4 linked regions of the Homo sapiens genome follow. The protein of the gene in region 1 interacts with the protein of each later gene in a pairwise test. Each region holds a gene or a part of one and is shown in the gene's direction. Other genes may lie near its edges. The genes, in order: HERPUD2, NAF1, EFNA5 and TAS2R10.

Evidence for each region.
Region 2: the proteins of HERPUD2 (region 1) and NAF1 interact in binary tests that used the Homo sapiens proteins (3 or more experiments, as listed by UniProt).
Region 3: the proteins of HERPUD2 (region 1) and EFNA5 interact in binary tests that used the Homo sapiens proteins (3 or more experiments, as listed by UniProt).
Region 4: the proteins of HERPUD2 (region 1) and TAS2R10 interact in binary tests that used the Homo sapiens proteins (3 or more experiments, as listed by UniProt).

What each region holds. Positions count from the first base shown.
Region 1 is NC_000007.14:35,685,129-35,692,161, reverse strand, and holds part of HERPUD2 (homocysteine-responsive endoplasmic reticulum-resident ubiquitin-like domain member 2 protein), read left to right. Parts: intron 1-7,033. UniProt on the Homo sapiens protein: Could be involved in the unfolded protein response (UPR) pathway.
Region 2 is NC_000004.12:163,156,873-163,163,905, reverse strand, and holds part of NAF1 (H/ACA ribonucleoprotein complex non-core subunit NAF1), read left to right. Parts: intron 1-5,578; exon of another isoform or gene 5,579-5,681; intron 5,682-7,033. UniProt on the Homo sapiens protein: RNA-binding protein required for the maturation of box H/ACA snoRNPs complex and ribosome biogenesis.
Region 3 is NC_000005.10:107,380,938-107,387,970, reverse strand, and holds part of EFNA5 (ephrin-A5 isoform 1 precursor), read left to right. Parts: intron 1-199; coding exon 200-265; intron 266-655; coding exon 656-736; intron 737-6,594; coding exon 6,595-6,716; 3' UTR 6,717-7,033. UniProt on the Homo sapiens protein: Cell surface GPI-bound ligand for Eph receptors, a family of receptor tyrosine kinases which are crucial for migration, repulsion and adhesion during neuronal, vascular and epithelial development.
Region 4 is NC_000012.12:10,824,718-10,830,522, reverse strand, and holds TAS2R10 (taste receptor type 2 member 10), read left to right. Parts: upstream 1-4,164; 5' UTR 4,165-4,253; coding exon 4,254-5,177; 3' UTR 5,178-5,304; downstream 5,305-5,805. UniProt on the Homo sapiens protein: Gustducin-coupled strychnine receptor implicated in the perception of bitter compounds in the oral cavity and the gastrointestinal tract. Signals through PLCB2 and the calcium-regulated cation channel TRPM5.

The sequences.
Region 1 (7,033 bases):
GTTACAGAACTCCTTCCCAAACTGCCTGCCTCCTGTAGCCACACTGGAGACACTTTTGGAGGCTAAACCAAATACTATGCAGCCTATTAATGATTAACATGGCAAACCTTTTTTTCTCCTTTGACAAGTTTTCTTTAAGTGAATTGTAATGTCTGACTTTCATTTCTAGGTTGAGTGGGTGGAGCTCTGGAGCGGTGGGGGTATGTGTGTTTATCGTCATAGAATTTCACTGAAAACTTTGTATAGTTACTAGATTTAGTAAGTTTACATTCTTATCACGTGAGAATTGATTTGAAGCATCACAGTTGTTGAGCAGCAGTTTAATGGTATCGCAAAGCCATAGGTAGTCCTCAGCATAGGAGTTGGAGTCCTAAAAGTTTACTTTGTAAGGTCATTATTTAGAATTCAGCACAGTTTGCTATTAAGTAATATTATAAAGGAAGTTTAGGTTTTTCTGACCGCCTGCAATGACTAAACATTGATTCTGTGTTTTAGTTTTCAAGTGCTGTTATGTTTAACAGAGATAATTTCTTGTGCATCTTCCTTGCACATATGCCTACTTTCATTATCAGTGTGTGGACTTAGCAGAGTAGGGCTCCAGTGCTTTGTAGGAACAGGAGTGCCCCAGTAAGTAAAAAGTTGATGGCTCTCATCAACATTGCTCTAATTGGATCTGATGGGTCAGGAGTAGGTGGAGGGACTTTGTTCCTGTGGGCAGTGGCTTCTAGGAAAATAAATTGGTGCTGCTAGAGGGGAAAGAATGGAAATTTGAGATTGTCCTTTTAGGATCCTACAAAGATAGGTCATATGTCTATATGCTGTTAATGGAATTCTGGCTGAACTCTATGAAGTTGTAAAATCTTGGGATCCTAGCTTCATGGTCAGATATTGATTTGACTAATCACAGTCTCCATATGGGTATATTAAATTCACTTCTCCCTCCCCTAGCAAACTTAGAACAAATGTACCCCTCCCCCTCAAAGCACATTTTTTTGGGTCTTCATTTATTTATATAACTAGGATTTTATTGGCCTAGCATTTGAATATTTATGCTAAGTGTGAAGATGATGGTAAGAGTCCTTTGCTTTTGTGAAGCTCAGATCCAGTGACATGTAAGTAAATAAGCGTAATAGTATGTGACTAGTATTATACAGGAGGGATGTTCTGTGTGTTGCATAGGAACACAGGAAGGGAATGATCATCTCTGGAGTAGGGGTTAGGGGAATGTGTAGCTGTTTCAAGAAAAGATTCACGGGGACATTTAAGTTTTCTTAAAGAGTTGATTACAGTTTTAAGCAGACAAGAATCAGACTCTGATAGCTTCCTTTTTTATACCGTTCTTTTTTTTTTTTGAGACGGAGTTTCGCTTTTGTTTCCCAGGCTGGAGTGCAATGGCGCTATCTCGGCTCACTGCAACCTCTGCCTCCCGCCTTCAAGCAATTCTCCTGCCTCAGCCTCCCAAGTCGCTGGGATTACAGGCATGTGACACCACGCCCGGCTAATTTTGTATTTTTAGTAGAGATGGGGTTTTACCATGTTGGTCAGGCTGGTATCAAAGTCCTGACCTCAGGTAATCCACCCACCTCGGCCTCCCGAAGTGTTGGGATTACAGGCATGAGCCACCACTCCCGGCCTTAACTATTCTTTTGGAGTTAATGTTTGCACTGATGACTTTGTTTTATATTAGTATATTACTTAGTAATACAGTATTAGGTAAAAAGATTATAGATCCTTAATGATCTGTGAAGGGAAAGGTGTTTTCTGGTTAGGAATTTAGGCAGTTGCCATATTTGTGAAAATGTTCACAAAGTCATAATTAAAAACCTCGGATGTGGAGTTGAGCTGTTTTGGAGTTAACTTTGAATGATATTGATAATTGGTTTAAGACTTGGTTTAGGAAATGGGAAGTGCACTAGTTTATATTACAGAATATATAGATAATTGTGAGTTGTAATATGACATTTGACATCACTTCATGACTAGTTTTTCAGATCCTGAAATTGGGCTGCACTGTGAAATAATTCTAAAATTTAGGTAATTGCTGTTTGGTGGTGAAGATACTTGGCAAGAAGACCACTTTTACTTGAGTTTCAGACTTTAATCTGAGTTTAGACTTAGTTATTATAGATGTAAATACCAAAACGGTTGATAATAGATGGATCATCCTAGAGAAAAATTTTAAAAATATGAATATCCAAGTCCACTTAGGTACCTTTCTCATTCTCTTACTATATCTGTTCTCATGAACAAGCAGTCACTAAGATGGACCTGACTCACTCTGAATTCAGTTTTGAAGGCAAACCTTTTTGGGGCTTGCATGGCTTGGCTCTCCATTTTTCAGTCTTGGGGTCAAAATACCTCTGATTGTGTCCCTCAGTTCTGGGCAGATTTCCTCTGTCTTTGCTGTTCATACTGTTAAACCAAAGCAGTCATTTTCTTATCTACCTCTCCTGATCAGTTAAGCAGGTTTGTGCTGTTTTTTCAAACTGTTCCTTTACTCTCAGATTCTATTAGAATTAAAGAAGCAAGAATAGAACCAATTGTATATATAGGTTCTGTTGTGAGATTATAACACTCCATAACCAAATTGCCTGCAATCAGAAGTCTTACTTTCATTACAGGTAGAAATAGCTTATATCATTTGAAATTTTATCTCTCTTAGTTTTGTAATTTCCTATTACCTTACTTAGGTCATTTTAAAAAGTCTACTTGTTTAACCATTTTGGAATTGTTGATTTAAAGGGGCTATAATCCATAAACAAAATAATTTTTGTTTTATAAAACTATTGTCTTATAAGATTTTAATACATTTAAGAGGGTTTCATGTCGCCTGGGAATATAGTTCAAGATTTTAAAACCTCTTTTGAACAAAGGGTACTATCGAATGTGAAAGTTGATGAAAAACAGACTAAAAGTTTTGAATGACTGCTCACTAAAATTTTATTGCTTAATGTATTTGTAGCCTTATGTCTTTTTGGAAAATATAATAACATTATTATGAAGGTAATGTTTAATCATTTCTCAATACTTTCCAGATAGAATTTTTGTAGAACTTTTAGCTTAAGTTTCTTTTTTTAACATAATAAATTCTGCTTTGATTGTCTAGAATGCTTTTATTTAACTGCTCTGACTTTGCCATTTACTAAGTGTTTGCCATGTGTACCAGGCATTATAATAAGCATTTGATATGCTTTATCACATATATTCCTCCTAGACTTCTTATGATGTAAGGTTTATAATTAGCTCTACTTTATAGATGAAGAAACCGAGGCTTGGTGATTTTTTTTTTTGCTTAGGTCAGACTCTAAGGAGTGGAATTAGAATTTGAACCCAGGTTGGACTTACTGTACACATCATATGTGATGGTTATGTATAATAAGATGAAGAAAGGCATTTAGGGACTCAGCCATCTCAGTTATATACTTGTAAACTAAAAAGAACCAGTTGAGCTATAAAAAGAGATTTATATGTTTGGCTGGTTTGTTGTCTAAAGGCTGTAGATAAATGGATAACAGCCTTACTATGGTGCTAACACTTAGCTTAATGTGTGGTTATATCTCTTTATTCTGATAAATTATAGGAAAGATTAGATGCATAATATCTTAAGACTGCAGCGCACATATCTTTGTCCTGTCTTCACAGTCTACCAGTTGGTGTGAACCATAGTCATATACTTTGACAGGCTCTATTGAACATCAGAGGTGTACATCACTTGGTGTGTGAATATCATATATCTCTACCCATGAGTGGAAGCAGTTAAGCTGGGAATATCTCTTTGGAGTTCCAGAGAACATTACTCTGTAATATTCTGTAGGTACAGTTTTGCTTACTGTTACTGCAAGGAGATAAGGGGTAGAGGCAGTTTGGGTGACTGTGCCTCTATTTATAGTGTTTCTGAATTTTCAGGGTTTTTAGATTGGATGCTTTTAGTGGGAAATGGGAAGGAGATGTGTTCTAGTACAAATTTACAGAATTCATTTCCCACAGAAATGATATTTTGTGCACTTCCTGGGACCCAGCTCTTTAAAGCTATTTGATATTTGTGACTGAACTATATGTAAGTACTTAATAGTTACTACTTTTAAAGGACTAGATTATAGTTCATTGAACTAACCTGTAAGTTGAAGATTGCCTTTACTGAACTATTAAGATGATAGATATTTTAAAATTTTTAATTAATATTTTTAAATTAGCATATGAAATTTGATTATGCTGAAGTTGGATATACTAGGAACATGATTTTTAAGCCATACATAATTGAAAGACCCATTTAATCCTTGACATAAAAAATTTAATCATTTGATACTAACTAGGTGACTTTCTTGAAATATAAAAGTATTGTTGGCTTTAAACCCATTTATCAGACTCCAGGAGATATTTTAAATGTGTTAAGGATGTATGATATTTGATCTGTTTCTGATATTTGGTTAAACATTAAAGGGTCAGACACTTTCAATAATGGCATATACATAAACCTTTTAGAAACAACAAAAAAGTCCAGGTTAGGACTTATTTTAACCTGTTATACCAGCAAGTGAGCTTTCCTCACCTTGGTTTTTAGCAATGTCTGTTAAGTGGGTAGCAGAGGTTTTCTCGGCCAGCTAGTTAAGCAGCTGTTTATTTGAAGTGGGATATTTCTGTTTCTGGGCCACTCAGAGTACATCAGGATGTTTCCAACTTGTTCTTTGTCTTATTATTTGGCTGATTCTGCACTGCCATCTGTGACCAGGCTTCATTTAGGGTGAAGTATTGGTGGTGAAAGTAGTGAACCTGATAGAATTTGCTGACTATTGGATGTAGGGGTGAGTACCAGGAAGAATAGTGGTGGTGGTAATGGAGAGGCCAATTATATTTATATGTTACTCTGTGGAGCCAGTATCTTATCATTAGAATCTTTAAATTGACAATTTAACTAGTACGTTTAGATTTGTGAACCCTGAGTCTTCTGAATTCTTATATTAGAAGGGTACCATGCAATGTTTTTTAAATTGAGAAACGAATGAACTTTTATTGTGTTAAGCTACTGAGATCTTGGGATTTGTTATAGCAACTATCATTACCCTAACTAATATAGAAATGGGTTTGTTTTGGTTTGCTTTTTTGAGACAGAGTCTCGCACTGTCGTCTGGGCTGGAGTGCAGTGGCGTGATCTCAGCTCACTGCAACCTCTGCCTCCTGGGTTCAAGTGATTGTCCTGCCTCAGCCTCCTCAGTAGCTGGGATTACAGGCGCCTGCCCACCTAATTTTTCTGTATTTTCAGTAGAGACGGGGTTTCACCATGTTAGCCAGGCTGGTCTCGAACTCCTGACCTCGTGACTCGCGCCCCCCCCCACCCCCCCACCCCCCCCCCCCCAGCCTCCCAAAGTGCTGGAATTACAGGCGTGAGCCACCACCCCTGGCCTGGAAATGGGTTTGGTTTTTTTTTTTTTTTTTTTTTTTTTTTGAGACGGAGTGTCGTTCTGTCGCCCAGGCTGGAGTGCAGTGGCGGGATCTCGGCTCACTGCAAGCTCCGCCTCCCGGGTTCACGCCATTCTCCTGCCTCAGCCTCCCAAGTAGCTGGGACTACAGGCGCCCGCCACTACGCCCGGCTAATTTTTTGTATTTTTAGTAGAGACGGGGTTTCACCGTTTTAGCCGGGTGGAAATGGGTTTTTAATCAAGCTAAAAGATAATGTTAGGCCGGGCGCTGCGCTGACGCCTGTAATCCCAGCACTTTGGGAGGCCGAGGTGGGCGGATCATGAGATCAGGAGATCGAGACCATGCTGGCTAACACGGTGAAACCCCGTCTCTACTAAAAATATAAAAAATTAGCCGGGCGTGGTGGCAGGCACCTGTAGTCCCAGCTACTTGGGACGTGACGCAGGAGAATGGCATGAACCTGGGAGGCAGAGTTTGTAGTGAGCTGAGATCGCGCCACTGCACTCCAGCCTGGGCGACAGAGTAAGACTCTGTCTCAAAAAAAAAAGAAAAGAAAAAGAAAAAGGTAATGATATTAGCAGGGCTGGATAAATAACATTATATTACTTTTTACAAGTCAAATTGAGTTGAGATCTCAAAGTCTCTGCTTTTCCTAATGCTGTAGCTTACAATACCAAAATAACTAGTTGAAAATTCAGTTGATTATTGTCATTTGTTATTAGGTCTAACACATGATTTTCCTGATATTTAAGTTATTTATTTATTTATTTATTTATTTATTTAGAGACAGGGTCTCGCTCTGTTGTCCAGGCTGGAGTGCAGTGGCACAACCCTGGCTCACCGCAACCTCCGCCTCCCAGGTTCAAGCGATTCTCCAGCCTCAGCCTTCCACACCTGCCACCACACCTGCTGCTGCCACGTATTTTTAGTAGAGATGAGGTTTCCACCATGTTGGCCAGACTGGTCTGGAACTCCTGACCTCAAGTGATCCTCCCAGCTGGGCCTCCCAAAGTGCTGGGATTACAGGCGTGAACCACTGCACCCAGCCCTGATATTTAAATTAAATTCATTGATATTTAAACTGAAGAGGCAGTTTTTTAATGGCATAAAAAATTTCCGGCCAGGCACAGTGGCTCATGCCTGTAATCTCAGCACTTTGGGAGGCTGAAATGGGCAGATCACCTGAGGTCAGGAGTTCGAGACCAGCCTGGTCAACATGGAGAAACCCTGTCTCTACTAAAAATACAAAAAAATTAGCTGGGCATAGTGGCACGCGCCTGTAATCCCAGCTACTCGGGAGGCTGAGGCACGAGAATTGCTTAAGCCTGGGAGGCGGAGGTTGCTGGGAGCTGAGCTCATGCCACTGTACTCCAGCCTGGGTGACAGAGCAAGACTCTATCTCCAAAAAAAAAAAAAAACAAAAAAAATTCCAAGTGTTACTTTTTACCTAGTTTAGGCACATGAAAAAATTAATAATGTTTCTGTTTTCTTTTCTGTTTTTTTTTTTTGAGACAGTCTCTCCCTCTGTTGCCAGGTTGGAGGACAGTGGCACGACCTTGGCTCACCTCTCTGCCTCTTGGGCTAAAGTGATCCTCCTACCCCAGCCTACTAAGTA
Region 2 (7,033 bases), on another chromosome or scaffold:
GTCTGCACGTCAGAAAATTTTGCTCAATAGCAATTGAAATTTCAATAGCAATTGAAATCAATTTTTTTGGTCTGCACGTCAGAAAATTTTGCTCAATAGCAATTGACTTTTTAATTGACTGCATTTAGAGAAGTAGAAGATGAAATTCAGAGGGTTGAACTTGTTAGGATTCCTATTGAAGTTTTTGGAGTGTTTTTATTATTACAGTTGGAGAAAACTTGTTAATTGTAGAATGGTATTTATTGGCACTCGATAGGTTTGGTTTGCAAAGTTAACTCTTGCAAGGTTATTTCCTCTTATGCTGTAAACATCCTTAGGAGGATGATGTTAGTCTGATTGAAACCTATGACCCAAGAGGAAAGCCTTCTCAGAATTTCAGAATGTAGGCCATATTATCACATTGTTTTTTTTCTACCCCTGCATGTAGTTTTAATTATTAATGCTTTAAAAATATTTAATGGTCACTAATCATAATTCTTATATAACACTTAAATTGATGAGATAGTTTAATGCAAGATTTGAAAAAATAAATTAAAGCCTACAGGCACTCAGGAGCCTTTTTCATGAATGGATTCTGCCAGTCTGAATTATTTCTCTTTTTCTCTACTCATAACAAGAAATTCTCGTCTCGCTTATGCTTTATAACTTGAAGACCTTTGGATTTGTATGCAGCTTCATCAGTGGCTCATATTTTCATGCTACAGATATGTTAATATTTCTTAGTGGTCTTTGTACACAAAGGCTCCCAGCATAACTATTTTCTGAAAGTAGGAGACTTGTTTGGTCTTTCTTGCTTGTCTCTTGATCATTTTTCTACATAATTTCCTTATTAGAATATAATAACGAACAAAGAAAAGACCACAGTACTTCTGTAAATGCATACATATCATTGTCTTACTAGATTTGCAATTCTTACCTTGGGAATTTCTTCCAATTTAATGCAAAGTCTTAGCATATTTGTTTAGGTATTTTTCTGAACAGAATGTCCCTGTTTTCATCAGAAGATCAAAAAGGATTTGTGGCCACAAGGAGTCCAAGAACAAGTTCTTTGAGGACTGAGTTCATATGTGATCCTTGTAATTCCCATAGTCCCCAGTGGAGTGCTTTATAGATAATGGGTTCTCAGGCCAAAGTAATACATGATTATAGAATGAGTGTGTGAATAGGCATTTTATATTTATTAATTCTTTAAGAAATTATTATAGCACACCTGCCATTTGCCAGGTGCTGTAAACAAGACCAGTCCAGTTTCTGCTCTCATAGTGTCTAATGGAGAGACACAGACAGTAAATAAAGTGGAGACAAATAAATTTAATTGCTAAAAATGCTATTGAATTGTGTAAGTGTATGTTTGCCTCGAAAGACAAAATTCCATTTGAATGTTATTAGATTTTCAAACTTGGAATGATGGGTTGGTCTGTTCCTCTCTGTGACCATTTCAATGGATCTTTGGGAATGATGGAAGAGGCAATTATAGTCTTTATTTGGGAAACTTATTAGAAGTCCTTCAGACCACTGTGCTGCTAGAGATAGGTAGAGGAATTGATGAGTTTCCCAGTCTGCCCTAAATCTCTGGCTTACAGGTCTGAAAGAAGATATAAGGACTTCTTCGGGGTTTCAAATCTTAAGTTTGGGGGAAAAGAATGACTTTGTCCTGAGTACTAAGGATAGTGTATAGTTACAGGTATGTAGTGTGTTTAGGAGTCTGCCTCTTTGTCCGTTTCTCAGGGCTGGCAGTTTTACCACTGATAGACTCTTGCATGAAAGTCTTGGAGTTGACTTTTGCTGGCTTATGGTCTGTTAACACAGCCTTGAACAGATCATTGAGGCTAGTGGAATGGGTATTCAGATTGCTTGGCTGTGAGTCACATAGTCACTCCTGTTTGTGTAGGCGAGTGTGTAGGAGAGAGTGAGGAGAGCATGTGTAGGAAAATGAACACTTGAAAGAGCACATGGGCTAGTGCGAGAGGGTGGGAGTGCGTAACAGCCAGTTGACAGAAAGGGAGTGTGAATGTGTATGTATTGTGAGGAGGGTGGGATGTTGGGTGTAATATCAGCCCTATATAAACCACATGGAATGGTTTATCTTTCACAGGAAAGGGAGCTTATATCCATTCCAAAAGGGGATGCTGGGCAGACAGTAACAACGGATTATACTCACTAGAGGGAAAGGGAAATACTTGGAAGTGATATCATGTACGACTTATGTTGGACTCATTGTTAGGAGGAGCAGAGACTCATATTACCTCAGGAGAAATGGAAGTTTATTCGAAAGCAGCTGGGAACTAAGGCAGCTGTGAAGGCTAGTCACACTGTTTCTTTTACATGCCTCTGGATAGTCTCACAGTTCTCTGGCATTTTATTCTTTCATTATTGGTTGGCTTCCTCTGTTTATCTATAGATTTGTTTTTTGGTTTTTTTTTTTGGTGAGGGGGGACAGAGTTTCGCTCTTGTCGCCCAGGCCGGAGCCCAGTGGCCGATCTCGACTCACTGTAACCTCCACCTCCTGGGCTCAAGCTATTCTTCTGCCTCAGCCTCCCAAGTAACTGGAATTACAAGCGCCCACCACCACGCCTTGCTAATTTTTTTATTTTTAGTAGAGACAGGGTTTTGCCATGTTGGCCAGGCTTGTCTCAAACTTCTTACCTCAGGTGATCCACCTGCCTCGGCCTCCCAAAGTGCTGGGATTACAGGCGTGAGCCACCGTGCCTGGACAGATTGATCTTTTTAATTCTAGCTTATACATGGATTTCAGTATCTCTGGCTCTAAAAATGGCATCTTTTGCTTTCAGTGTCCCATGAACTGGCTAATTAGTGTTGTATTTCCTTGCTTGCTTTTGGGACAATTCTGTTATTTAGCTTAGATTTTTTTTTTTTTTTTTTTTTTGGAAAATGACAGTCCATTCTTTCTGGGAAGCATCTCCTCTCCACAACTATTCCTAGCTTGTGTGGTATGTGCCATTTTGTTCAGGCCTCTTGATATGTCACTTAGACTTTTAGGCAGCAGAGGTTGTGTATCTTAGCTAGATGGAGCTTCAAGCTCTATGTGGTCTATTAACTATCTAATGAAATTCTGAAGAAAATTAATGAACTTTTCTGCCAAAAGATATACACAAATTAAAGTGTGCCAAACAGTTAAAACCAATTTTAGAATTTGTGCTGGACCTTCAGGGATCTGGACATAGACATGCCCAATTTAGCCCAGTTTAACCCAATTTTATGTCCAACCACTTTCTAAAGAGTTTTCTAGCAGTTTCCTATTGTCACTCAGGCATGCTTAGCTTAATTTTTACCTCCATTTAGTCTGTGCTTCAAGCAGGAATGTCGCCTCTCTGGATCTATCCCTTTAAATCTTTCCATTGTGGGTTGTTCGATCTCTGCGATCTAACTATGTACAATGCAGATCTTTAGGTAGATGAGAACTACAGTGAAATAACTTTATGATTGTTCTTAAACCTTAGAAAGATATAATTTTTAAAATTAGGTTATAACCAAATCTTGCCATCCCAAGATGTGGTTATAACCCAGTTTTTTGTTTTTGTTTTTGTTTTTGTTTTTTAATGTGAGGGTACGTTAAGGGGGAAGAGAATAAAAGAGGAATTAGCGAGCTATAGTGGCAATGAAAAAGGAGAGTCTTAAGTGGCTCTCTTCATAATGTCACAATTAATAAGTTTAACTAGATAAAATTATTCTTTTAAACATAAATTCTTTTTTAATGCTCAGAAGGTTTATATATAACCTACACAGTCACTGTAAGCAGCATACATATTACAGCTTTGGAACTACGTTGAGCCACATAGGATGTATTTAGTGTTTTGATGAATTGGAAAATTGAGATTCTTTTTAAACAATTTTATCAGCAGTTGATGCTCTGAACTCTTCATTCAAATGTATCAAGTGTAATTAAAAATGTAGGGTCATAAAAATATTTGGGATTATAATTTTTAAAGTCTTAATCAGAAATGAGTTTTATAAATTAGTGCCCATTGTTTTCTGAAAACCTGAAAGGCTTCACATAACATTTAAAAATTATTAGCACAATGTTTATGGAGATAAGAAATGGATAATACTTCAGTAGGGATAATAATGTGTCTTTAGGCATATAATGTAGCATGACCAAGAAAAAAATTAATGCTTATTGGCAATTTTGGGGGAAATTTAGCTGTCATACTTTGGTGACTGCTTATTTTATAAAATAAGTACGTTTGGTAGTTAGGTTGAGTACACTCTATTCTCCTGATTGTGGCAGTGTGGACACATTCTAAAATGTCCTAACGTGAATGTATGGAAATATCTGGACCACTCAAGTGGTTGGAAGTTGCAGTAGAATATTTCATGCCTGTTTGATCTCCCATCATATATGAAATTGTATTGCATCTTGGTCTACACTTAGTAATTATCAATTGAATATATTGTTTTCTAGGCATAAGTTGGTTTATAAATTTTGTCCTGAATGCAGGCCTCTTTTAACTTAGGTTTTTATTACTATATGTATATTTGGAACTATTAAATTCTATTTTAGAATACACTTTGATAGCACTTATTAACATTCTTCCCAAAGTGCTTGTTATTTAAGCAATGGTTTGTATACTTAAGATCATTTTTCATTAATATTCACTAGTGTTCTTCAAAAATAATTAATACTCAGGGTTTTTTAAATTAAAGTTTTATATCTTACAGAATATTTCAATAAAGCTTACATGAGGCATGAATGATTTCATAAACATGAAATAAATACTGTTTTATTCAGTAGAGTATCCATTTATGTCCTGTGTATATACATATATAATTATTATTACACAGAAACATTCAATTGTTTAGATTCCCCCATTCCTCAGTAGTTTCTAATAAGTGAATTCTGCTGATTGCTTTAGAAGATAAAGACAAATATCTGTTAAAGAGCAATGGAACTAGAGAATGAGCATATACACTTTAGCTGAAAGCAAAGTAGCACCAGAGAGTTAATGGTTGAATGTCAGATGAATGGTGTACTGCACATAAGAAGTGATAGGATTGAGTGGAAGGGGAGGTAATAAGGATTTCTGAAAAATTTAGGCTAATACTCTGTGGCATTTTACAATTATTTGGCAGTCTTTTTATCTTAGTGATATAAAATCAGTGTCTTAAAGTTGATGAAATATGCACTCAATTAACATGAAAGATAGGCTTAAAGTTATATTCATTGTTGGAGGTTTCTTATTGAGATGGACTATAGTTTTATATTTAAGCAAATTAAATTTTGAAAGTATTATGAACTTTGTTTCTCTTAACAGTAATTTTAGAGAAAAACAGGATAATAATGTATTCATTTAAAAAAGAAAAATATCAAGACACTTCAAAGAAATGTTGACCCTCATTTTTTAATTGACTTGTCTGAGTCTTAAGTTTAGTGTCATACACAATAGGGTAATTAATGAGGGGACTAATGCTTACTGGTGATAAATAGCTGAGTTTCATGGAAACTTGTAAAATTACTTCCCCTGAAGAAGTTAATGAATTAGAATACATGTTAAGTATGGTCATAGTTGACACAAAGTGTACAGACCTAATCCATTCTTTTTCCAATATGTTTTACCAGCTATAGAGAAAAAAAAAATTCAGTCATGGCTCTCAGTACTCCAGGGATTGGATCCTACTTTCCAACCATATCTGAAAAGTGAAGGCTCACCTAATAGCATCAGGTAATTGGCTGCCACGTGCATGTCCTGTGTTGGGTAATATGAGAAAAGTGGTTAGATAATTTCATCCCACCTTCCTCACTTTTCTCAATTCTCCCCAAACTGACACCAAAAAGGTTTAGTTTTCATTTGGAATGTTTGATTCCTTCTCCCACCAACCTCTGTTGTCCTTTTTCCATATTTGTGAGTGAAAATCCTACTGAAAGTTCTTTATATAATTTTACTTTAGAAAGTCATCAATTTACTGATACTCTTTTTTGCTCAATAAGCCTTCACAAATGCTTGAAAAGTCAACAGTGTTGTAAATTATAAATGTTACCTTTTCAGAGGGCCACTTTTGACATATTAGCTTCTTCCATTTTTGCATTGAAAGTTTTAGGCACCCATTTTTTGACTGGTATGTCTATAACCTCATTTTTAATAGGATGGATTTTTAATGTTATGTGGTACTCTTTTGAATATTTTGCTTAACTGAATAACCTTGTAGACCATACAGATGTTAGAAAATTAAAATATAATAATCTTACAAAACAGACAATAATTGCTCTTTCATGGATATTCCAGAAGTGTGGTTAGGATCTTGCATTTCTTTAATGCCATCGTTACGAGTATCTGTTATCACAGAAGCACAGTAATTTTTTTATTGGGATCTAGTATATAATTTCTGTATTAATGTGTTGTCTTTTTGATTACATGCAGTTGGACATTTAAATTGTCGTTAGCCATTTGTGTAACTGTTTAGAACTTGTGCTCAGTTTCCTTACTATTCGTAGGTAAGAAAAATGAAACCAGAAAGAAAGAGACTTGTCTGAAGTCATATTAGTGGGGAGGAGCAGATCTGAACTGGTAATAGATACATTCCAAACTGCTGTGTTTTTAGTATTTGTGGAGACCTGCATAGCAACGTTGGAATCTGGTCGTTTGGACTTTCTCATTATTTGGTTTCTGAATAATCATGTAGCATATTTTCTCAAAGTGAAGGATGAATGTATCATCTAATGTAAGCTTTTTAAAATTGTATTTGCTTGGATTATATTGCCTCTCAATAAAGCTTTTGACTTGGAACTGTGTAGTGTGTGGGAAATAAATGGTGGAGCTTCTTTAGTATGTTGAATTTTAGTAGTTCATTTGCGAAATGCTGTGGTGTTTGGGGATGTTTATTTCCATGCAAGCTTTTCATTTGCTAATGATGTGAATGAAATAGTTTTCTTCCTTTCCTTTCCTACTCTTTGTTATGTGTAGAAGTATTGAATAAATGAGTCCAGAAAAACTTTTTGCTGTTCTTTGATTTTTTGTTAGTAAACATTTACAAAAATTTCATTTGTATGATAAAATAGTTATTTCTAATGGCAGAT
Region 3 (7,033 bases), on another chromosome or scaffold:
TCAGGATATGAAAGTAGCCTTTCTATAGCAGTGAGACCTGAAAAGTACTGTTTGTTTTAATTTGGAGGAGGAATTAGAGAAAGTTCCTGTTGTTCAAGTCAGGAAAGAATTTATTGTTCATCATTTGTATGTGAAAATGAAGAGTAATATGTTGTTGTTCTCTTCTTTCTTTCCTGCTCTCTCTCTGTGTTACCCACAGCCTCTGCAATCCCAGATAATGGAAGAAGGTCCTGTCTAAAGCTCAAAGTCTTTGTGAGACCAACAAGTAAGTTCACTAGAATGAGCTTCAGAGGGTGGCTTCACCGCGCATGCTTTATTGTGTGGTCTGGTTCACGGCGGTAAAACTTTTTTTTACTGTTAAATCTTGTGTGGTATCTGTTTTGTATATCAACATTCATATTTTAGTTTTCATCATATTTTTTCTCATTCTTCATGATGCTTTTACTTAAGTACACAGCAGTTGCTAACTTGTTGTTTCTTAGACTGTTGTACATGCAGAGCAAATGGGAACAATATTGGCATTTGGAACATGCCATTGATTGTAAGACAATCTACATAAAAAAAGAAAAAAAGGAGAGAAAGAAAAAAGAAAGAAATGGGAGTTTAAGGGTGTCTTCACTAACATATTTGGCTGTTATCTCTATTTTTGTTATAGATAGCTGTATGAAAACTATAGGTGTTCATGATCGTGTTTTCGATGTTAACGACAAAGTAGAAAATTCATTAGAACCAGCAGGTTAGTATGCTTAGAGAATCTCTTTTAACAAATGCATCTATTTCTCTGGTGCTTCCGTATTTTTTTCCTTTCTTCTTCTCTGCATGTTTGCATGTTATAGTTGTTGTTCTGCTTTTGCTCATTGCTAGCGATGCTAATATGACTTATATTCTACCTCATTCCTCCAGTATCTTTGTGCAATGCATGTTAGGTAAAATAAAATTTTCTTTTTTGGAATGGGTTTGAGCTAATGCAGTATCCTAATATAGAAGCCCCATCGGAATGCTAAAATCTCACTGCCTTTTACCATATCCTCAGAGCATGCTGGTGAATCACTGTGAATATTAAAGGATCTGTTTTCATGTAAGACACAAAACATTTCTATGTATATGTTCATAAAATTTTATTTTTTATGTCCAAATCTGTAGATAAAAGTAATAAGACTATTGCACAAAATAGAAACTAATTCAACATACTTAGTTTTCTCTAGAAATTTACATGCATCATTGAACTGACCTAAGGAACTTTATTTTATTTAAATATTTTTGCTATTGTCAATAGTAATTGGTCTGGAGAAGTATAATCACATTGCCACCACAAATTCGCACATCTCTTGTGCCACAAATGTACCAGTAGCCTGTTGAGCCAAATGTGATCCTTGATTACCGAGGCAAAATAAGTTTTAAGGATAAATAAAACTTTTCTACGATTGACTTCCACACTCCTAATGTTTCCCATAACTAAAGAAAAATAAAACCTACCAAAGCACTCGTTGAGGCATTAGTCTGTCGCATACTATGGATAATAAGAACCTGTAAATATCCATTCGGTTATCAATTCAGTCTGGCCATTTAATAAAACTAGATTAACTGAGAGGAGTGGTCGCCCTCTACCAACTGCTTATGGAGGGGTGTGCCTGGAGGCCCTGTGTGTTTCCTTCCTCTGTGGTGTCCTCTTCTCCCCGACCTGCTCCAGATCTTCACTGGTTTCCTTACCCATCTCCCTTGATCATCTCAAAGCTTAAGGGAAATAAAATTATTTCCTCTTCATGGAGAGATTTGAGCCCCCTTATGTAAATGGAGAATTTTTTTTTTTTTTTTTTTTTTTGTAGAATTTCTCTTCCTTATGGTCCTAGAAACTAACGGACATTAAGGTCCACTTTTTCCTCCAATATTGTAACCAGGACTGCATAGTCAATGAACCTTAGGGAAACTTACCCTGAGTAAATGCTGTGCCTCAGGACATACAATAGCTTTCCTGTTAAAACTGACAGGAAGAGTTAGAGTTTTTTCCCTGAAGCATTCTTGTTTTCTAAGGCAGGCATCTCACCCAGAGCGCAAATGAGAGGTGTGTACAATGAGCTCTCCGAGGTCTTAGTGGCTCCCCAGGGATCAGTTAGCTGCTTTAGAAAGTTTTAAGGAATGAATGCTGACATGAAGGCATTTTAATTGTGTCCTGGAAATCTGGAGCCATGACTTTGGCTTCTTAAGGTACCAGAGTCCTCACAAGCTCAGGGACTTGGGCCACCAGAGGATCTGCAAGTTACTCAGTATCTCCCTTAACAACCCCAGACTCTACACTCTTCCTTCTATGGCTGAGGAGACTCACCCATGCCACATTGCTGATTAGGTAGATCCAGGTTTAATACTCAGATCTTCTGACTCCTATTCCAACATTAGTATCAAAGTAGTGGTCTCTTACCATTATTAGAGGTATGTTCATAAAGAGGACTTAAGTCTCTTGTCTTTGTTAAGAAGCCACGAGAAGAATGACCAGCATGTTCTAAACAAAAATTACCCAGGATTATGATCTCTTGATACACATTGTGCAGAATGTAGGCATATCTTTCCCATGGTTTTTTTTCCAGGGAATCTCCACTGCCTGTCTATAGCATAGGAGGCTGCTTAGACACCTAACAGATTGCATATTTTTCTCTGGTAATGAAGAGGCACATGGAGGACTATTCTGCCATTAGGAAAATTACCTTTGAATTCCACTAACGATACAATGCAAGATATTGAGATGCTTTCATACATGAACATATACCACTGTCTTTGGGGAAACAAGGTTTTTTTTCACTAAGCATTTAAAATGCACAATGGCCCAAAATTGATGGACATATAACTGCTGGAAGTTTGCAAAAGTTTGGCAGAATGTAGTTCAGTGTGTGCATACGTGTGCTGGGGAGTAGAGCGTAGGTGTACATGCAGGAAAAGCTCCTTGAGTCAGTCAGAGCTATATTTTAAGGGCTTGCTGGTGAGTATCTTCACTAACAAAGTGAGACAAGGTTGAACCACAATTCCTGGCAATAAGAAAACAATAAGAAATGTGTTTCTTACAGGTGTGAGGCACTGTGCCTCACACCTATAATCCCAGCAATTTGAGAGGCTGAGATGGGTGGATTGCTTGAGGCTAAGAGTTTGAGACCAACCTGGACAACACTGTGAAACCTTGTCTTTACCAAAAAAAAAAAAAAAAAAAAAAAAATGTGGTGTGTGTGCCTTTAGTCTCAGTTACTTGGGAGACTGAAGTGGGAGGATTGCTTAAGCCCAGGAGTTCGAGGCTACAGTGAGCTATGATCACGCCACTGTGCTCCATCCTGGGTGACAGAGCAAGATTCTGTCTCTAAGAAGAGAGAGAAAGTCTAGTTGGATTTGCAGTTCTTCACCACTGTGTCGAGCCACTGAGTGAAAGGGTATTTACCTTTCCCCAGCTCTGGGTGTAGACCCAGTCTTTATGAACCCAGCAAGTCTGAAAGGATTCCACTGCATGATCTCAGCGATGTGTACTAATTCACCTGTCTTTGGAATGTATTTGTCTTTTTTGTTTGCTTGCACACTCTGCCTGCCAGTTTCCTATCATCAGGGATGCAGGATGATCTCAGGGCAGACATATGCCACATAACATGCTCCAAAATATCGCTAGTGTTCTCTCCGTTAACCATTGAAACCCCCATGTTGTGGAATCCTGTAGCCAGGAGGCAAAACTTGATTTGACTTCTGAAGAGGAACGTTTTCTTTCTTCTTCCAAGCCTGTGTTACAAGCGTTAGAAATTCTCTCATGTTTAGGTGTAGTTTCCATTGGGATAGATTTTACCTATGAATTCCTCCTTAGAATTCTGAAATTGCTCAGATTTACCCAAATGACAGCCAGTTTCTCATTTCACATTTGGGGGCTGTAGAATCTTCCAACATTGAGAACCTGTTTTAATCAAAGGATGCTTTGTGGAATCCTGAATGAGGAACAGCATGTTGCAGGAAGAAGAGAAGGATCCTGATGCCCTAATGGGACTGATTTCCTTTTGGGGGGCAGGAAGATATATATTCGTTGGGTGCTTATAAAAGGTTAATTCCAAAGATTGTGTATGGTTAAAGGACTGAAAGTCACACTTAGCCTCATACTTCACTTAGATGAAAAACAAAAGCCTTCCTCTCCATTACCTTGTAAGATCTATTCCTTGTGTCTTGTGCTGAGTGGACCTGGAATAATGGATAGCCCTCACTGAGTACCTAGAAGGGACTAGGGTGGTGATGAAGGGGTTCACACCGAAGATCTAAGTGCTAGCTGGGTACCTTTAACAGTACACTTGCAAGCTATACAAGGAGAAGGATTGGGTAATATGCTAGTAAAAATAAGATGGAGAGGAATCCAATAGCTGATGCAATTTCAGGTGTTTAAGTATGTGATATTGTGAAATGAACTCTGGAATCCTCAGGGTTTGTGGTTATTTCACAGTTAAGCCTGAAGTGCTCCATTGTTTTGATTGACAACATATTGGTGCTCTTAAGAAAGTGATTTGGATTTTAATTTCAGGGCTATTAAGGGCCTTTACTTCTACTTCCTATTAACTACAGATTTAATTAATACACTTGCAAGGCTGAAAAAGAGCAGAGAATAGAAGAGGGTCTGAAGGTACTTGGCCACATTGTGGAGGACTTTATATATATTTTTTCTGCATCCATTTATCTTACCATCTTGCTTCCTAACCTTTTCTAGTCTCCTAAGCTAAAATCACTCCATGCAGATTCGCTAAGGTCCAGGAAAGGGGAGCACATTTGACAAGGGGATGCAGTAGCTTTTATTCGAGGGGAGGCTAAAATGGTAAGAGCACTCCAGGTCAGGAGACTCAACACTGAGAAGACCTTTCTCATTGGGAATGGATGTGATGGACAAAACCATCCCAAACGAGCATATCTGAAGCAGGGGTCAGCCTGTGAACCTGAAAAGTGGTTACTTTAGGACAAATATTAGCGAGTGTGATTCTACCCAGTGAAGGAAAAGCACCCTTATTGTGACACGTGTGGTAGGAAAATACAAATGAGTTTAAAATAATGGTTAGTTAACCCATTAAGGGGTTTGAGGTGGGTCATCCAGGGGTATTTAGGGATTATCCTTTGAGGTCAGTATAATTGAGAACAACCACTAGAGCCTTGTTACCATTCTGTCTGGCCCTTGAGCAATTCCCAGATGGCAACTGCTGAACACCTGCAGGAAGTTACCCTGATGCTGAGATAAAATTTGCACAGGGGCTCACTATTGGCCCCCAAAATGTGTTATTCAGAGATCCTTAGTCTAAAAGCACAAGTGGCCAGGTATAGTGGCTCATGTCTATAATCCCAATCCTTTGGGAGGCCAAGGGAGGAAGTTGGTTGAGGCTGAGTTTGAGACTAGCCTGGGAAGCAAAGGAAAACCCTGTCTCTCTAAAAATTCTTAAAATTAGCCAGGCATCGTGGTTCACACCTGGAGTCCCAGCTACTCGGGAGGTTGAGGCAGGAGGATTGCTTGAGCCCAGGAGGTCAAGACTATAGTGAGCTATGATTGGGCCACTGTACTCCAGCCTGAGCAACAGAGCAAGACCTTACCTCTAAAAAAATATTAATTAATTTAACTTAATTAAAAGTAAATAAAAGCATAAGTTAGGTCAGGTGGAAAGAAGAAGACAGGCAGCCCTGGAGCAGAGCTTGGCTCCTAGGCAAGCCTCCAACCTCTCTTTGGTACTAATTGCTTCAGAGTTCCCATTTGGAAGTTAAGCCTGTTAATCATGCAGATCAGGAAGGCTATCCAAAGTCAGAGGCAGCCTCATAGAACACTTTATAGCTAAATAAAAGAAGCTTAACTCACTTAATCTATTTTATTTAGAGGAAAATTTGCATCCACGCTGATAATTTATGTGCCAAGCTTCAGCCCGATAAAAATAAAAATAGTCAAGTTCAAGTAATTTAATCTTAGAAATACAGGGTTTGTAATAGAAATAGCACCATAATTGACACCTAATTGCAGGCAAACTAGTGGGCATACGTTTATTGAAGTTTACTAGGCATGATGTATAGTTTATCCAAAATGCTGCTGTTTTGGCATTTAGTTTTTCATGTTTGAAAATTCGTCTAGGCATCCAACAACCAGGCATTCAACACTAATCCTATGAAACAGCTAAAAGAAGGGAAATGGGCAGCGCATTCTGGTTAACCACTACTGTGCCAACATAACTGCCCCTTCCCCCACCCCCACCAACATGTCACTTGCTTGCCTGTGACATCTTAGGTTTCAAAGGTACATTCAGATATCTGAAATTTGTGCAAGGCGTGTCTGACTGCTGGCTAACCAAAGCAGCTCACAGGCCAAAGGTTACGGTGTATGCATAATTTTTCCCCTCAATTTTTAAGGAAAGTATTAATATTGCTGAGAAAGTCCAATTTTCTTTGCCTCTTCTTTGTTTGCTGTAAATAATGAGTGATTATGCAGACATGAAAGTCAATGGTGGCACAAGGTTCATTACCCTACTTTGCAGAGGGTGGCGAGGTCTGTTAACAGCAGGCTGCTGCAAGAGAGTTATTAAGGATGTGAAATCTCATTGGAATGTGTGCTTTCTATTTGAACAGATGACACCGTACATGAGTCAGCCGAGCCATCCCGCGGCGAGAACGCGGCACAAACACCAAGGATACCCAGCCGCCTTTTGGCAATCCTACTGTTCCTCCTGGCGATGCTTTTGACATTATAGCACAGTCTCCTCCCATCACTTGTCACAGAAAACATCAGGGTCTTGGAACACCAGAGATCCACCTAACTGCTCATCCTAAGAAGGGACTTGTTATTGGGTTTTGGCAGATGTCAGATTTTTGTTTTCTTTCTTTCAGCCTGAATTCTAAGCAACAACTTCAGGTTGGGGGCCTAAACTTGTTCCTGCCTCCCTCACCCCACCCCGCCCCACCCCCAGCCCTGGCCCTTGGCTTCTCTCACCCCTCCCAAATTAAATGGACTCCAGATGAAAATGCCAAATTGTCATAGTGACACCAGTGGTTCGTCAGCTCCTGTGCA
Region 4 (5,805 bases), on another chromosome or scaffold:
AAAAGAGGTGTGAATAAGTTGTAATCCACTCATTCAGATCTACAGAAGGTGGATGTTAGAAATTTAACAGAAGTAAGCAAAATAGAATGAAAACCACTTATTTCCTCTAGGTAACAATCTTGTCTCTGTAATAATATGGATTTAGCCAGTTACTTTATGTTTTTTGTTTGTTGTTTGTTTGTTTTGAGATGGAGTCTCACTCTGTCGCCCAGGCTGAAATGCAGTGGCACCATTGTTTTTGTGAATATTTTTGCTGCTGATGTAACTGCAGAAATTAGTCTAGAACTTGTGGAAGTTGTTAAAACCCTTTCATAAGAGCCCAGTTACTATTGCACAATCTAAGGCATGTAGAGTTAACATACCTAGAATGCACATCAAAATGGTCATTAATCTCATTCATGAGAGGTCTGCCCTCATTACCTCCTAAAGGAACCATCTCTTAATACTGGCACACTGGCAATTAAGTTTCAACATATAGACTTTGGAGGAGACACATGCAGATCACAGCAAAGGGGTTTTTAAATCTTTGCTATGCCTATCACTTGCTTTAGTTCTGTTAATTTTGCTTTATTTATTTTGAGTCACAATTATTAGTCTGATACACCTTCAGGATTGTTAAGTATTTTTGATAAATTGAATATTTTATCATTATACAACTTCCCTCTATTTTTCTACTACTTGTCTTGATAATATAGCCACTTTGAGAATAGAACCAGTCCTGCTTTCTATGGTTACAAATTCCATAGTATAGCTTTTTCTTTCCTTTACATTCAATCTATCTGTGCCTTTATGTTTAATGTTTTATCTTCTAGGCATAACATTTAATTGTGCTTTCATTTATTCATTCTGATGATCTCTATCTTTTCATCAGAGTGTTTAGTCAAATCATGTTTAATGTAATTATCAGTATGGTTGGCTGTAAGTCTTGCATTTTGCTCAATGTTTTTCATTTATCTCACTTATTTTTGTCCCTCTGTCCTTTTTCTGGCTTTCTTTTGTGTTAATTGACTGTATCTTCAATTATTTCATTTTAATCTCACAATTGGCTTTTAAAACTCCATTTGTTATAATGAATTATTCTTTTATATATCGCTGGACTCTATTTTGTTTGGAATTTTTGCATCTATGTTCAGGCTATATTAGCCTGTAATAGTCTTATAAGTATTCTTGATGAAATTTTGTATAAAGTTGTTCACAGTATTGTCTTATAATAAAAGATTATATACAAGGATATGTAACTATATTATATAGTATTATATATATATATATATGTATATGTATATATATATATGTATATATATGTATGTATAGAGAGAGAGAGAGAGAGACAGAGAAAGAGAGAGAGAGAGATGAGGTCTCACTCTGTCACCCAGGCTGGAGTGCAGTGGCCCAATTATAGCTCACTGCAAGTTCAAACTCCTGGGCTCAGGCAATCCTCCTGCTCGGCCTCCCAAGTAGCTGGGACTACAGGTGCACACCACCATGCCCTGCTAAATTATTTTTATTTATTTATTTTTTTTAGTAGAGATAAGGTCTTGCTATGTTTCCCAGGCTGGTCTCAAACTCCTGGACTCAAGTGATTCTCACACCTGGGCCTCCCAAAGTGCTGAAATGACAGGCATTAGCTACCACACCCAGGCCATATTTCTGATATCTCTAAGGACTGTAGTAATTTGTATTTTCTTTTGACCAACATTAGTATATTACTGTACCTAATTCTTTTCTATCGGTGATTTCTGCTGTTACTATAATTTCTTGACTTCTATTTTCTTTCACTCTTAGCTTTCTAGCTTCTTGAGATGAAAACAAAATTCATCTGTTTTTACCCTGCCTTTCTAAAAGATGCATTCAAGGCTACAAATTTCCTTCAAAGAATGGCTTTAATTGGATTATGTAAATTTTAATAGGTCATTTCTTTATTACACGTTGAGTATCCCTAATCCAAAAATCTGAAATTTGAAATGCTCCAAAATCTGAAACTCTTTGAGCGCTGACATGACGCTCAAAGGATATGCTCATTGGAACATTTTGGATTTCAAATTTTTGAATTCGAGATGCTTAATCAGTATGATGCAAATGTTCCAAAACTTAAAAAAAAAGAAAAAAAAATCCGAAATCCAAAGCTCTCTGGTCTCACACATTTCAGATAAGGGATACACAACCTGTATTATTTACTTAAAAATATTTTTGTAATTTTTGTTATTTCTTCTTTGACTCAAGAGTATTTACAGGTTTTTTGTCTTAGTAAATTGTTTCTTTCTCTAGTTATCTTTTTATTATTGAACTTCATTTTATTCCTTTGAATTCAGAGAACATTCAACACTTGTGAGATATTCTTTTGGATTCATGATCAGTCTTGGTAAAAATAGTCTATGTGCACTTGAAAAGAATATGAATTATTTTACCGTTGAACACAAGTTTGTCAATTGTTTTTTCATGTATTTTCCATCTATTGATTTTTGGTGTTTCTAAGATGAGTTATTGAGTTATGTATTTTACAGTCTTTCATTGTGATTGTAGATTTGTCTTATTTTTCCTTTTCTGTAAATGTTTGGTAGATTATTTGGTTCATAAATTTTTGGGATTACCCTACCTTTCTGTAGATTTGAGCATTTTTATCACTATAAAGTACACTCCCCATTTCTTCTCTAATGCTGCTTCTTACCTTAAAGTCTGCTTTATAGAATATTGTTATAATTATGCCAGATTTCTTTTGGATGATGTTTGCATGGCTTATTTTTCCATAATTTTACTTTAAAGTTTTCCTTTTCTATATTTAAATTGTGTTTCTTGTAAGCAGTATACAGTCAGAGTTTTAAATTCTTCTTTGTTACTATTAATTTTTTACTTGGAGTATTTAGTTCATTTACATTTTATATAATTATATTCTCCATTTCTAGAAGTTTTTTCCCCAAATGTTCCAATTTCTTTCTAACAGTCTCTTGCTGCTCTTCTCTGAAATTGCATCTTGTTTTTTGTAAACAGTGTATACATTAGCTAATTTATCTATACATATTCTTATCTGTCAATTTCAGTATGTGCAGCCCATGAGAATTTAAGTTTTCTACTTGCTTTTGGTTGGTTTGTTTTGTTTTGCTATCATTTGTAGTCTATTCCTAAGCTTAATTTAACTTCATTTTGAAATCATTGTGCAATTTTATTTATGGTAGTCATGCCAGGATAAGTGAGAGAAGGTCTTCTTTTCTCCAAAGCTTAGTTTATTCATATTTAATGTAAATACAAAAATAGCCCCTCTTTTAAAGGATTGAAGGCTTGTGAAATTAAGATGAGAAAAAGATACTTAACATAGCGCTAGGAATATAATAAAAGCTCAATAAATGTTAGATTTCACTTTTAATTTCACTTTTAATTCTTAGATCAGTATGTTGATTTACTTAATTGTTTCCCACCTCCCTCATTAGAATATACACTCCATAAATCACACAAGTTTTGAAATTCTGTCTACCACTATATTCCCTCAAAGATCAAAAGAGAGCTTGTTGTATCTAGACATTCAGTAAATACTTGTTGGATAAATGAATGGGTGCCAGCAAACAGTAATGTGTTAAATGAAGAGATTATTCCTAAGAGCCTTTCATGTCAAGGGTAGTCAACATAATCTTCTGCATTCAAGGGTGTAATAACCATAAGTATAAAACAACAGCAACAGATTTGTGACATATTTGTGAAACTTGTCATACCTAGAGTTGAGCTTAAATTTTAATTAAAAATTAAATCGATCATTTAGAGTAAGTATCTACAGTGGCTAAATTTGTTTTTCATTTCTATATAGTATTTTCTGTACATATATAAATTGATTATAAATGACATAAATAATGATTTGATATTTTAAAAGATAAAGTCAAAATTTTTGTTTCTGTTTTGCATTACATTCTATAGGTATATGTTTGGCACTCCTCCTCCACAATTCAATTTATTAAATGCAAAATAGTCTCAGGAGGACATGTAAAATCCATGAAACAGAAACTTTCATTTGCATTTTAACAAATTATAGATAGGCATTCAGTCTGAACATACATTCTCCAGACTAGCTATGTTTTGTAGACATATTTGGAAAGGTCTTCATTAAGAAATTTCTGATTCCATCTCAAGCCATTACTGGGGCAATTTCAAGTCTTTATATAATGAAAGAGAAGAAAGTCACACTTCCGTCGAGCAGCCAATATATGCCTCATTCTGCAGCAGGTAATCTAAGATAGATGTAACAGAAGCAATATTAAGAATTAGCAGATATGCTACGTGTAGTGGAAGGCATCTTCATTTTTGTTGTAGTTAGTGAGTCAGTGTTTGGGGTTTTGGGGAATGGATTTATTGGACTTGTAAACTGCATTGACTGTGCCAAGAATAAGTTATCTACGATTGGCTTTATTCTCACCGGCTTAGCTATTTCAAGAATTTTTCTGATATGGATAATAATTACAGATGGATTTATACAGATATTCTCTCCAAATATATATGCCTCCGGTAACCTAATTGAATATATTAGTTACTTTTGGGTAATTGGTAATCAATCAAGTATGTGGTTTGCCACCAGCCTCAGCATCTTCTATTTCCTGAAGATAGCAAATTTTTCCAACTACATATTTCTCTGGTTGAAGAGCAGAACAAATATGGTTCTTCCCTTCATGATAGTATTCTTACTTATTTCATCGTTACTTAATTTTGCATACATTGCGAAGATTCTTAATGATTATAAAACGAAGAATGACACAGTCTGGGATCTCAACATGTATAAAAGTGAATACTTTATTAAACAGATTTTGCTAAATCTGGGAGTCATTTTCTTCTTTACACTATCCCTAATTACATGTATTTTTTTAATCATTTCCCTTTGGAGACACAACAGGCAGATGCAATCGAATGTGACAGGATTGAGAGACTCCAACACAGAAGCTCATGTGAAGGCAATGAAAGTTTTGATATCTTTCATCATCCTCTTTATCTTGTATTTTATAGGCATGGCCATAGAAATATCATGTTTTACTGTGCGAGAAAACAAACTGCTGCTTATGTTTGGAATGACAACCACAGCCATCTATCCCTGGGGTCACTCATTTATCTTAATTCTAGGAAACAGCAAGCTAAAGCAAGCCTCTTTGAGGGTACTGCAGCAATTGAAGTGCTGTGAGAAAAGGAAAAATCTCAGAGTCACATAGACACCTTGGGAAGAGATGGATGTTCCACGAAAGGAATCCAGTGAATAAATCCTTGAAGATCTGTTTCATTGCACTGCATTCTTGCATTGTCTTTTTAACTGTGTCATTAAAGATCACTGAAATCTTCCATAATTGTTTTGACTATGTTTCAGGGAATCTCAGTCTTTGAGGAGATTTTAATCTCACATGCAAATTCAGTGGCTTAGTCAGCTTCCCCACCCTGCAACTTCTTCCTACAAACTTCCTAGAGGAAGACCATCAGCCTGGAGACTATTCGCTGTAAAGATTATAACGGTGAGAATAAGCTCTAAAATAAAACTTCTTGTTGTGCTTTACCTGACTTTTCTGAAGCAAGGACACCCATTCTCCCAGAAAACCCAAAGGAAAAAAAAGAAAGAAAGAAAATTAGATCAATCTTGACATTTAGAACATGGAAGTGAGGATAGATGGTGGTACTTCTTTACAGAATGCTATTTTAATTATTTAAAGGTTTTTTTTTCATTTTTTAGAATCTAACATCCTTTTTTACTGGTGTACGATGTGTAGCAAGTAGTCAGAGGAGTAGATGTAGTTCTGTGAAATATAGTTAGGGAAACAAGGGTCTAGTTGAGGGATATGGGATCAAAAC